Regions from separate parts of the Homo sapiens genome. Here regions 2 and 3 are each reported to be linked to region 1. Evidence: microRNA targets listed by miRTarBase, many of them from high-throughput screens and not tested one by one. Region 1 holds a microRNA gene; each other region holds the end of a gene's coding sequence.

Evidence for each region. The annotated mature microRNA hsa-miR-5580-5p reads UGCUGGCUCAUUUCAUAUGUGU and lies in region 1 at 2,343-2,364, opposite strand. An mRNA with a match to its seed (bases 2 to 7 or 8) in the 3' UTR can be bound and repressed. Matches are read on the target gene's strand: a 7mer-m8 pairs with bases 2 to 8, a 7mer-A1 pairs with bases 2 to 7 and ends in A, and an 8mer does both.
Region 2: the mRNA of MICAL2 is a reported target of hsa-miR-5580-5p. The part of its 3' UTR that is shown has no 7-base or 8-base seed match.
Region 3: the mRNA of ADGRB2 is a reported target of hsa-miR-5580-5p. Seed matches in the 3' UTR shown: 7mer-m8 at 3,047-3,053.

Annotation. Positions count from the first base shown.
Region 1 is chr14:53,946,121-53,949,464 of GRCh38, forward strand. It overlaps MIR5580 (microRNA 5580), which reads right to left and starts at 2,364; the gene lies at 2,307-2,364. RefSeq lists enhancers at 1-228, 229-759 and a silencer at 730-779.
Region 2 is chr11:12,261,999-12,264,998 of GRCh38, forward strand. MICAL2 (microtubule associated monooxygenase, calponin and LIM domain containing 2) reads left to right here. Exons shown (of 28, transcript NM_001282663.2): 27 at 482-539; 28 at 1,562-1,787. The coding sequence ends at 522. Among named protein-coding and RNA genes, the nearest start is that of MIR6124, 100 kb to the left of the region's middle.
Region 3 is chr1:31,724,290-31,727,585 of GRCh38, forward strand. It overlaps ADGRB2 (adhesion G protein-coupled receptor B2), which reads right to left. Exons shown (of 33, transcript NM_001364857.2): 33 at 2,828-3,296. The coding sequence ends at 3,131. Among named protein-coding and RNA genes, the nearest start is that of COL16A1, 22 kb to the left of the region's middle. RefSeq lists an enhancer at 1-20.

The DNA.
Region 1 (3,344 bases):
GGGCGGGCACGGTGAGTCCCCGGTCCAGAGGCCCTGCGGAGGTCAGCTGAGGTGCTGTCATTATGTATCATGGCTTGGCATCTCATTTCTGAAAGCAATCGTCCAGCTCCACTCTTGCACACCCGTGGCCTCTCCCGTTCACCTCCGTCCCCCGACTGTTGGGGAGCGGGGCCCTGGCTGCAGTTCAGCTGGGACCCAGGGCTCTCCGTGTCCCCAAGGGGCCCAAGACAGCGGCTCAGCCTTCAGGGCCAGTCTGCAGGTCCGACCCTCACCCAGCGGGCCTGTTTCCCACTCGCCCACGTCCCCGCTCCCATTGAGTCACCCCCATATGCAGGCCCACTGTGAGCTCGGAGGCAGGAGAGCCTCGCTCCCTAATTCCCGCTCTCTGCCCCCTACAGAAAACCCCTAAAGGTCTCGACCCCTCTTAAGCCCCTCCACCCCGGGGAGCCTTCCCCTGCAGACTCCACGCTTCTGCGCGGCCTTTTGACCCCATTTCGCATGAAATCTGCAGAGCGACCGCCCCAAGGACCAGCGAGCGCTAATCAGATCCGTCTGTGTCTGCAGAGCTTCACCTGAGGCCTGGGTCCCCGAGGGCGGATGAGCGGGCCGGCTCTCGGGCCCGGGCTGGGGGACCCGCAGTCCGCGGTCGGCGGGGATGGGGAGGGGTGGCCGCCTGCCGCGCGGCTCCCGCGGGCCGTCGCCAGGTGCACGGTCCCCCTGGTCCCCCGCAGGGAGGACGCCCCCTGGTGCCCCCGCCGCCGCCGGGCCTGGGAGCTCCAGAGCGGGCGGGAGGCGGGGTCGGCGGGGCTGGATCTTGACGCCAGTCCAAGGCCGGGTGACTACTGGGGTCTGCCCGCGCCGCGGACGCGCCGAGCCCTCTCAGTGTGGCGCTGCCCGGCGGCGAGGGGGGTGTGGAACGAAGCACGGTCAAGACAGAAAACAAAGTCAGCAGGTCACCTGGCAGGTTCTGGGCGAATTATGCAACGAAAGCAGGGGAATGTTTGATGCGTCCCACTCCACACCCCCCCAACCTTTTTTTTTTTTTTTTAAGCTCCTAGGAAGCCGGTTCCAGTTTAAGGGTTGGGTAGGGATCGACCAAGCAGCTCCTCTGATGTGGTTACGACTTTGCCGAACTCCTCAAGGGCGAGCTTCCCTCCCCATCTTTCTTTCAGTAATAGGAACATTACTCTGGAGAAAAAAAAAAAAAAAAAACATGAATGGGGTGAAATGGTAGGCTTGATCCAAAAGCAACGCCGAGAATCACCCTACGACTTCCGTCAGGTACTGAACTGAATATTAGGCAAAAATAGTAAATGCCGAAACCTAAATCACACACATCCAATTTTTTTTATTTTTTTTTTAATCTCCCCGGGTCTCAGGACTAAGCTTTCAAACAGAATTTAAAGAGTTAACGCTGGCCATAGCTCTTTGTTTTCCATGCTAACATTTGTGGCATTAGGACTATTTTGTTAACTAGGTATATGCAATTCACAGAATTTCACGGTAAATTCCCCAGACCAAATATTTGGCTGAACAAATAAACAACATTATCCATTCCTGAAAATAAGCCAGTAGGAGCGGGGAGGATGGAGGAAGGGGCTGGTTGCTAGAACTGGACAGCCACAGGGCTCAGTACTGGCCCTAGGATAATTTGTTCAAGTACTGGAGATCTACTGGTTCCTTTTCAATGACATCGACGTTTCAGAAAGTTGCTAGAAATTGGGCAAAACAAAATGAGGCTGCCTGAGGGCAATCTATAAGGGGCTTCCCTAAATGATTTATTTGAGCTCCATACCATTAATCAAAGGGGCAGCGACCTGGGGGGTTGGAGGGGTGGGGGAAGGATCCCTTTTTGCGGGGAGTTTTGGAGGAACTGTGTAGTCTTGCTGCCTTTGCCTGGGGCTCTGATGTCTTCTCTCCACCTGCGCTCTCCGGGGAGCTGGGGTTTTGGCAACCACCCCGCTTCAATTTTTATTGGTTTCCACTAAGCTGCTCCTTTTGGAGGAGTGTAGGACTTCAGTAATTAAAAACAAAAATGAATCCTGCTTCACCCACTCCACTCCCAGGAGCGTATGTAAGAAAGTGTGTACAAGAATGCAAGGGTGCACACCCCACCTAGAAAAATGCAAACGCCAGGAGTGTGCACCACACACATTCTTTGGGTGCACACACCACCAGCAACAGCAATACTACCGCTCATATCTACACCTTCATGATGGAGAAATGCGCTATCAGCCTTCCCCACAGAGAACATACAAAGACACTAAATGTTTCTGCTCCAAAGGGATCCAAAGGGATCTTGGTCTGTGCTGGCTCACTTCATATGTGTGAATTTTCTCAGCACACATATGAAATGAGCCAGCACAGACCAAGATTCAAGGCTTAATTTAGTTGTTGGTGGCAAGTAAGAAAAAGCAAAGGCCTCTCCTCTGCTCCTCTTAATCCCTACACCCGTCATTCCAGAAAGGCATTTATCTGCCTGCTGGGAGCCCTTAACTGAGGGTACATTAGCATCCTCCTTTTTATTAACTTTGTCCAAAAATTGAGCTTTTCCCTTTAAGAAACCCTAGCACAGAACATCAGATCTACCTCTTTCTGCCCAAGTCCAGGGAAGAGGGTGTGAGGGAGGCAGTACAGAGCGAAAAGGAGAGTTGACATTTGACTCGAGATTTCTGTATAATAGTGGGACACCTTCACAGTGCCTGCTTAGAAATTCTGACCCTTTAGTATCTGACCCCATTGTCAACCCCCACCCAGCCCAATCTGTTGGGATCCTAAACTTGATGAAGGCCTTCACATTGGGAAAAGAGGACAAGGGAAAAAGTCAAGAAACAATGGGAAATTCTATCAAGTGGCATATTAAAACAGTAGTCATCAAACTTTTTGAAGGTAGGGTACATTATTTGTTACAAAAAAAAAAAAAAAAGACAAAATAGCAGTGCATGCCTGTAATCCCAAAGAGGCCGAAATGAGAAGATTGCTTGAGCCCAGGAGTTCAAGACCAGCCTGGGGCAACAAAGAGAGAACTTGTTTCAAAAAAAAAAAAAGACAAAAGAAAAAACAAAAGAGTCCTACCTGGAGAAAAAAAAAATAAGTTTAAAAACATGCCTTCACACACACATTATGATGTTAGTGTACAAATTAGTTTTGATTTGGAAATATCACATTGGTACCTGTAATAACTGGAGATACCCTGAGGTATCATGAAAGCAGAGGTGGGTATCATTTTTCTAGGGTTGAGACCTCATCACGCTCAGCTGTGATACACCTCAACAGGTGAGTGAAACAGAAGATGTACAAGGGGCCTGAAATGAAGTCTTTAATCTGACCTACACTCCTTTCAT
Region 2 (3,000 bases), not on the chromosome of region 1:
CGAGTCGGAATCTCTGACTGTCGTGTACAGCCATAAGGAGACTGGTTTGAATTACTGTGGCGAGACAGGGCGTGCCTGTCAGAAATCTGAGATGTTTGTACGCTCTGAGATGTTGAACCTTTCTGGTGGGCAGCACCGACACCCAGGGGTGGACCCCCGAGGATGAATGCCTCTAGGCCTCCGCAACATATTCAAGAATGAATGGGAGACGCTAGAGTAAAATGGGGGCAGAGAGGATATCAGGGAGCAAGATGCAAACTGTGTGCATCCACTCTCGTAAACAAGTAGCTGGTCACAACCAGAAAGGTTCATCTCTCCTAAGCAAACAGCGACTCTTTCAGAGGAAGTTTCCCTCTTTCAATCGTGGCCTTATTTTCAACTCCGGTGCCTTCTCGTGATGTTAATCATTTCCTTTTTTCCCCACACTAAGCTCTCTTTTCTATCTTTCTCTCTCTTTCCAATCTTACGCCATGGCCATCAGTTCATTTCAGCCTTCCAGTGCTACACCCACTTCTTGGCTGACACACTTCTGCTCTAAGGTGACTGGTTTTCTTGCCAATTTTCAAAGAGTGGTACTAACCCCCAACCCGCTTTCCGCACCCCGTCCTCTCCGCCAGCAGTACTGGTTGCACTAACTGTGAGTGTCTTGCATACTGATGGACTCATTTGGTGGCATGGTTGGCTAACAGCATGGCGGGGGGTGTTCAGCTTGAGACCCATGCCTGTGTTCATTTCCCATGGAGCTGGCAGCCTGGTCTACCCCAAGTGCATGCCCCGCCTCTCCTCTCTCCCTTGGGTCTGCCTGCGTGCATGCTTCTCCAGTTGCGTCTGCGAAGCTACCTACTTTCTTGGGAGGGTCGACCTTGATCATGAAACAATACCATGAGGGGGCCTCTGTCACCTTTGAAAAGAACACTTTTTGAGCAGCCTCAAAAAGCTCATACATACCAGCGCCTTCTTAAATTGGCTCTAATGTAAAGATTGTTAATGTCATTTATCAAAACCATAGGTGATTATTTGGAGGGATTTAAAAAACTTAATTACTCTCAGGCCTCATCCCAAGCTTGACACATGCTCTGTAGGTTGAACACATAATCACAAATATTCTAGCAAATGCTGCCTTGGTTGCAGCCTGCACTGTAGACCCAAGGGTTTTGCTGTGGCTCTTCTTATCTCCCTTGGCTCATAAAGCCCCAGATGATGCCAGAGCTTCAATTAGAGCCATCATCATCCCAGGCAGGGATATCTTTGAGAAATGACTCAGTTCAGCCCCAGGCCCCTGTGACTCTGCTTAAAGCACACATTTCTGCTGACTCTTGTACCTGGGGCAGCAGGATAATCACCAACACACTCTTAACGAGAAACAACACACCAAGCACCGTGGAGCTGTCCTAGGCAACACTCGCGGTCTCAGGCTGCGGTGGGCGTCTGTCCTGCATGTGGCCCAGACCACCCTGACCCCCGGGCCTGCCTGCCTGGCCCTGCATGCTGCACGCTCACTGTATTTGTGCAGATCCTGGCCAGTACAAAGTCGTTGCTCTTGTCTTATCTTCTCTTACAGAGTCTCCCTCCCTTTATAGAATGTCAACCAAAGAGTGCCCTCCTCCCCTCTCAGCCTCCTCTTTAGCTAGCCTCCCCATCTCATCACAACGCATGTCTGTGACCTTTGGTAATCATTTACAGTGCCACACGGAACCCTGTATTTTGCACACAGCAAAACAAACAATGTTTAGCTTTATTTATGGTATTTGATGCTGTAAATGGAAATAAATATTGTTCTTTATAAAGCTCATTGTTTCCTCTCTTCTTTGCCGTGGAAGCTTCTAAAACCTCACACACAGGGATTGGTGTAGGGGGTTCATTTTCCCTAAACTGCTGGCGGGACTTGCACTTGAGGTAACACAGGACTCTCTGGGGCTGCGCTGGGCACTCTGAAAGGAAATATTACCCCTGGGTAATATTTGGAAACTGTCACCAATGCTCCTGGGCTAGGCTTTGGGATCTCTTTCTTGAACACTCATTGTACTTTGCTGTTCTAGATGCTGGGCATAGTGGGTGAGGGTCAGTGTCCCCTCAGCGATTAGAAGCAGACTGTATTGATGGCTACCTTTACCCGTTTCCCCCGCACACCCAAGCGTGGCTCTACAGGAGAGCTTTCCCCATGAACCTTACACTAATTTAGGTTCCTATTCAGCAAAGGTTGGTCTGGAACACTTCACGCTGGTGCACAGCTGAGTGGCAAGTGGAAGGTAAGTAGGAAGGACTGGGCATCAATATTAGGATGGCAATGAAGTTGGCAGTGTGCTCATCAGATGGAGAGCCACTGCCATCCTAAGAGACCTCTCCTGTCCCAAAGGCTCAGGGTATTCAGTATCTATGGTGTGAGGCCCTGCCCTAGCACCACCCGAAGTATAGTATTCATGGCAGGCCCCAGGCAACTCCAGGCTGTGTTTAAGGGAAAGATTTGGAGCCTCACTTGGCTATCCTGGGCAGTGCCAAAGTCATCTGGTCCTCAGCCTCCCCTGGGTGGGATGCCTGCCATTTCCTGGCTGGGCGTAGCTGGGCGTAGCTGGGCTTCTGACAGTGGTATGAAAAGTCACCTGTGAACCTCATGAGGTCCCTGGCACCTCCAAATGGGTGTTCCTGAGGCTCTGGTCTCTGATGCCTGGATCTACCTTCAGAGCTGCCTCAGGTCATGACCAAGGGTTCTGTACTCTTACCTGGGTGATATATTCCCACTTCCATTTAAGGAGGGATGTTAGGGACTGTAAGTCAGGTGCTGGGCTGTGCAAGTGACTCATTCCTTTATGCATTCATTTATTCAGCAAATGTTTGTCCTAGGCCTTATTCTAAGCCCTAGGTACAGCAGGGAACCATGCGAAGTCCCCACACCTCCCTGCACCTTAGAGATGTGGCTCAGTATTGCTGTACTAGATGAGATCTGTTATATTTAACTGTGCATGTGCTCATTTGTTTGCTCAACTCTGTGATATTTCCTGA
Region 3 (3,296 bases), not on the chromosome of region 1:
GGGCCCAGCGAGTGCTGACTGCTGGGCCAGGGAGTTCAGGGACAGCATCACACAGGGGGCTACTTGGGCTGGGTCTGGAAGGCTGAAGGAGAGTTTCCCCTCTGTGAGGAGGAGGGAGTTTCAGGCAGAAGGAGTGGTGCATGCACAGGCATGGAGGTCAGAGAGATGGGCCAGAGGAGGGAGGCAAGGGCCACATCACCAAGGGCCTTGAACTCTAGGCTAATTCCAGGATCCACAGAAGGCATCTGAGCAGTGGCCTGGCCAGATCTGCATTTTGGAAAGATCACTTGGGCCATGTGGATGAAGGGCTGGAGACTGGAGGCAGAGAAAATGAGGGCAATGATGTGAGAAATTTGAGTCCAGGAAAGAAATGACAGGTTGTTAGATATTAGCTCAAATGGAAGGGAGATCGAGCCAACTCATTTTACAGATAGGGAAACCCATGTCAGACAGGGTCCAGTGGCCTGTCCAAGGTCACGCAGCAAGTCAGTGCCTGGGGGAGCAGGGACTGAGGGCAAGGGAGGGACAAAGCCCCCACCCCAGGAAAGCTAAGTGGCTGGTCTCAAAGCCAGCAGAGGCCTCTGCAGGTAGCTGTGGTTTGTGTTTGAGCAGAATCAACAAGGTAAATACTAAACTTCCTCTTCAACCAGATGCAAAGCAAGAATGGACAGGAGGGCAGGGACGTGCACATCACACCTCAGCCCCAGAGGGCCCCAGAGGTGGTGACCAGCGGAGCCTAAGACCAGGAAGGAGGGAGGTGCGAGCACAGGACAAGGCATTAAGAGGGCCTTTAGGTGATGGTCAGAGGAAGGAATGTGGAGTAGGATCTGCTGGTACATGGTCGGGCTTTGTTTGTGCAAACCCCCTTTTAGGAACAGGCCCCCCTTTCTCAGAGACCTGCTCCCTCTCCTCCCTCTCCCTCTCCCCCATGGTTCCTGATGGGACTGCCAATCACAGTGCCCCAGCCTCCTTCCTGGGGCCAGCCAGAGCTCTTCCTTCCTTGGGGGTTTTCTAATTGGAATTCAAGAGAGAAAGTTTCTTCCCCTCTAGGGGCAATGCTGAGTGATCGAGCTGGGAGGAGGAAGCCTGGCAGGCCCAGGGGGAAGAGGCCTTAAAGAATGAAGCCGACACACATTCGAGAGAATGCCAGGAGAGGATGAAACATGCGGTGGCACTCCTGATCCCGGGTCCCATCACGAAGGCCAGCCGCACTTGCCCACTGCTGTCCTTGCGGCAGCGCGCTCCTGGGTGAACAAAGCTCCCAGGTGCCTAAGCTGGCTGGTATCGGATTCTGCCACTCCCAGCCACAAGTCCCAGTCACAAGCTGAGCTGTGGGAGCTTGGGAAAGTCATGTCCCCTCTCCAAGCCTCGATTTACTCATCTCCAAAATGGGGCAGTCACAATACCTACCTTGAAGAATCAAATGAGGTAGTGCTTGAGTGAACTCTGTGTACACTTAAGTGCTGGGGCTGCCCGAAGGGAGGGAGGCGGAGGAGTGAGTCGCAGGAGCTCCAAGGGTCTAGAAGCACAGTCCTGAGTGGACTCTGCCCGCACGGCTCCTCTGACCAGGTCTCACAGCAGGCAGGATTGGAATGAGACCAGAGCAAGCCTGTGCCATCAAGGCCTGCAAAACTCTGAAGAGGCCTCCGCCCCTCCTCCAGCACCCCTGGGCAGGCCATTATCTGTGATACCCCCTACCCCAGCAGCCAGTCACTTCTGTCACTCCCACCCAGGCTGCTGCAGCACCTAACCCTCCCTCAGCTCTCCAGGGACCTGTCTGTGTCTCCGAGTCCCTGGGAAGGGGCCCAGAGGTGCCCATGTTGCTAAATGACCAGGCAAGAAGGACCTGTGACCCTGCTAACCGTGCCTCTGCTCCAGCTGCTGCCTGACTCCAGAATATGTTTCCAGATGTAATCCTGTGCCCCCTCTTTCTGGGGGCCTGAAAACTGAGCAAGGATCCGCTCACTCAGGCATGTAATGAATGCAACTCAGTACAAGCCTCCAGCCCCTGGCACCAAGCCAGCCTGGCTCCCACACCCCACCCCAGCCCTGGCCCGGTCCAACACCTGCATCTCCACCACAACCCAGCATCTGCGGCTCCCCTGCAGCCATGGTCAAGTTCCAGGAAGCTGAGCTGAAGCCCCACCTCCATCAAGCGTGGGTTTGAAGTCCCAGCTCTGCCTCTGACTGTGGCCTTGAGCCGGGCACTGCCCATCTCTGGCCTCATTTTCCTATCCACAAAATGGGCAACCTAAAACCTTCCAACAGGGTTGTTGTGAGGGGCCAGGGGATATGTGTGTGAAGCTCCTAGCTTAGAGCACTGCATGAGACTGGTGCCACATGGTCACAGCTAACCCTTCAAGAGCTTATCCTGTCCCAGGTATTTGCTGAACACTTTACAAATAGGAATTTGTTTCATCCCTGTAACAACCCTGTGAGGTGGGCACTGTTACCATCCCCATTTCACAGATGTGAAACCAAGGTCACTAAGCTCTGTCTTGGCTCTAGCCCAGGAAGTCTGGCCTCTGTGCCCCAGTGAATGGCAGCCACGACCATCACAGCCACCAGGAAAAGCCAGCCATAAGAGGTCCCCTCCCACACTCCCAATCTGCTTCCCACAGCCCAGATCGGGGAAAGGATGAATCACCCAGAGAGTCAGGGACAAAGATGGGGTCAGAGCCTAGGCCGCCCCCTCCCAGGCAGGGCTGGACTGACCCCATCACATCATCTGATGAGATCAAGTGAGTTCAACCCAGGAGACAGAAACAAAGTCGGGGTCCCAGAGCTGGGCCTTTACCTGAGGGAAGCAAACAGCTCAGCAGCAAAATCCACAGAGTGAAGTTTATTCCCAACAAAGTTCCCCTCCCCCCTCCCCAGCCCGGGACAGGGACGGACAGGCTGGGCTGAAGATGGGGTTCCAGTGGCTGAGGGGCCTCTGAGAAACAAGGAAGGGCCCTGGGACCCCAGGCCAAGCCATGTCCGGCTCCCCCAGCCTGGCTGAGTCCACGGCGCCTCCCTGCCCAGCCCTCGGGAGAGGGGAGAGGGCGCTGGCTCCTGGGTAGTTCCAAAGTGGAGTGTGAAAATAGAGAGATATATATATTTATATGCAGTGGGCAGTCCAGCGTGGCACTCACACCTCTGTCTGGAAGTCACCATCCGGTGGTTCTGTGGGCTCCCAGGCTGCTGCCCGGTGCAGAGTCAGCCGTTCTCGGGGCTTGGGGGGCAGCGAGCCCAGTGTCATAGATTTGAAGGTGCTCCAGCTCTGATGGCGCCGATGTTGGGACAAGCTGGGGCGC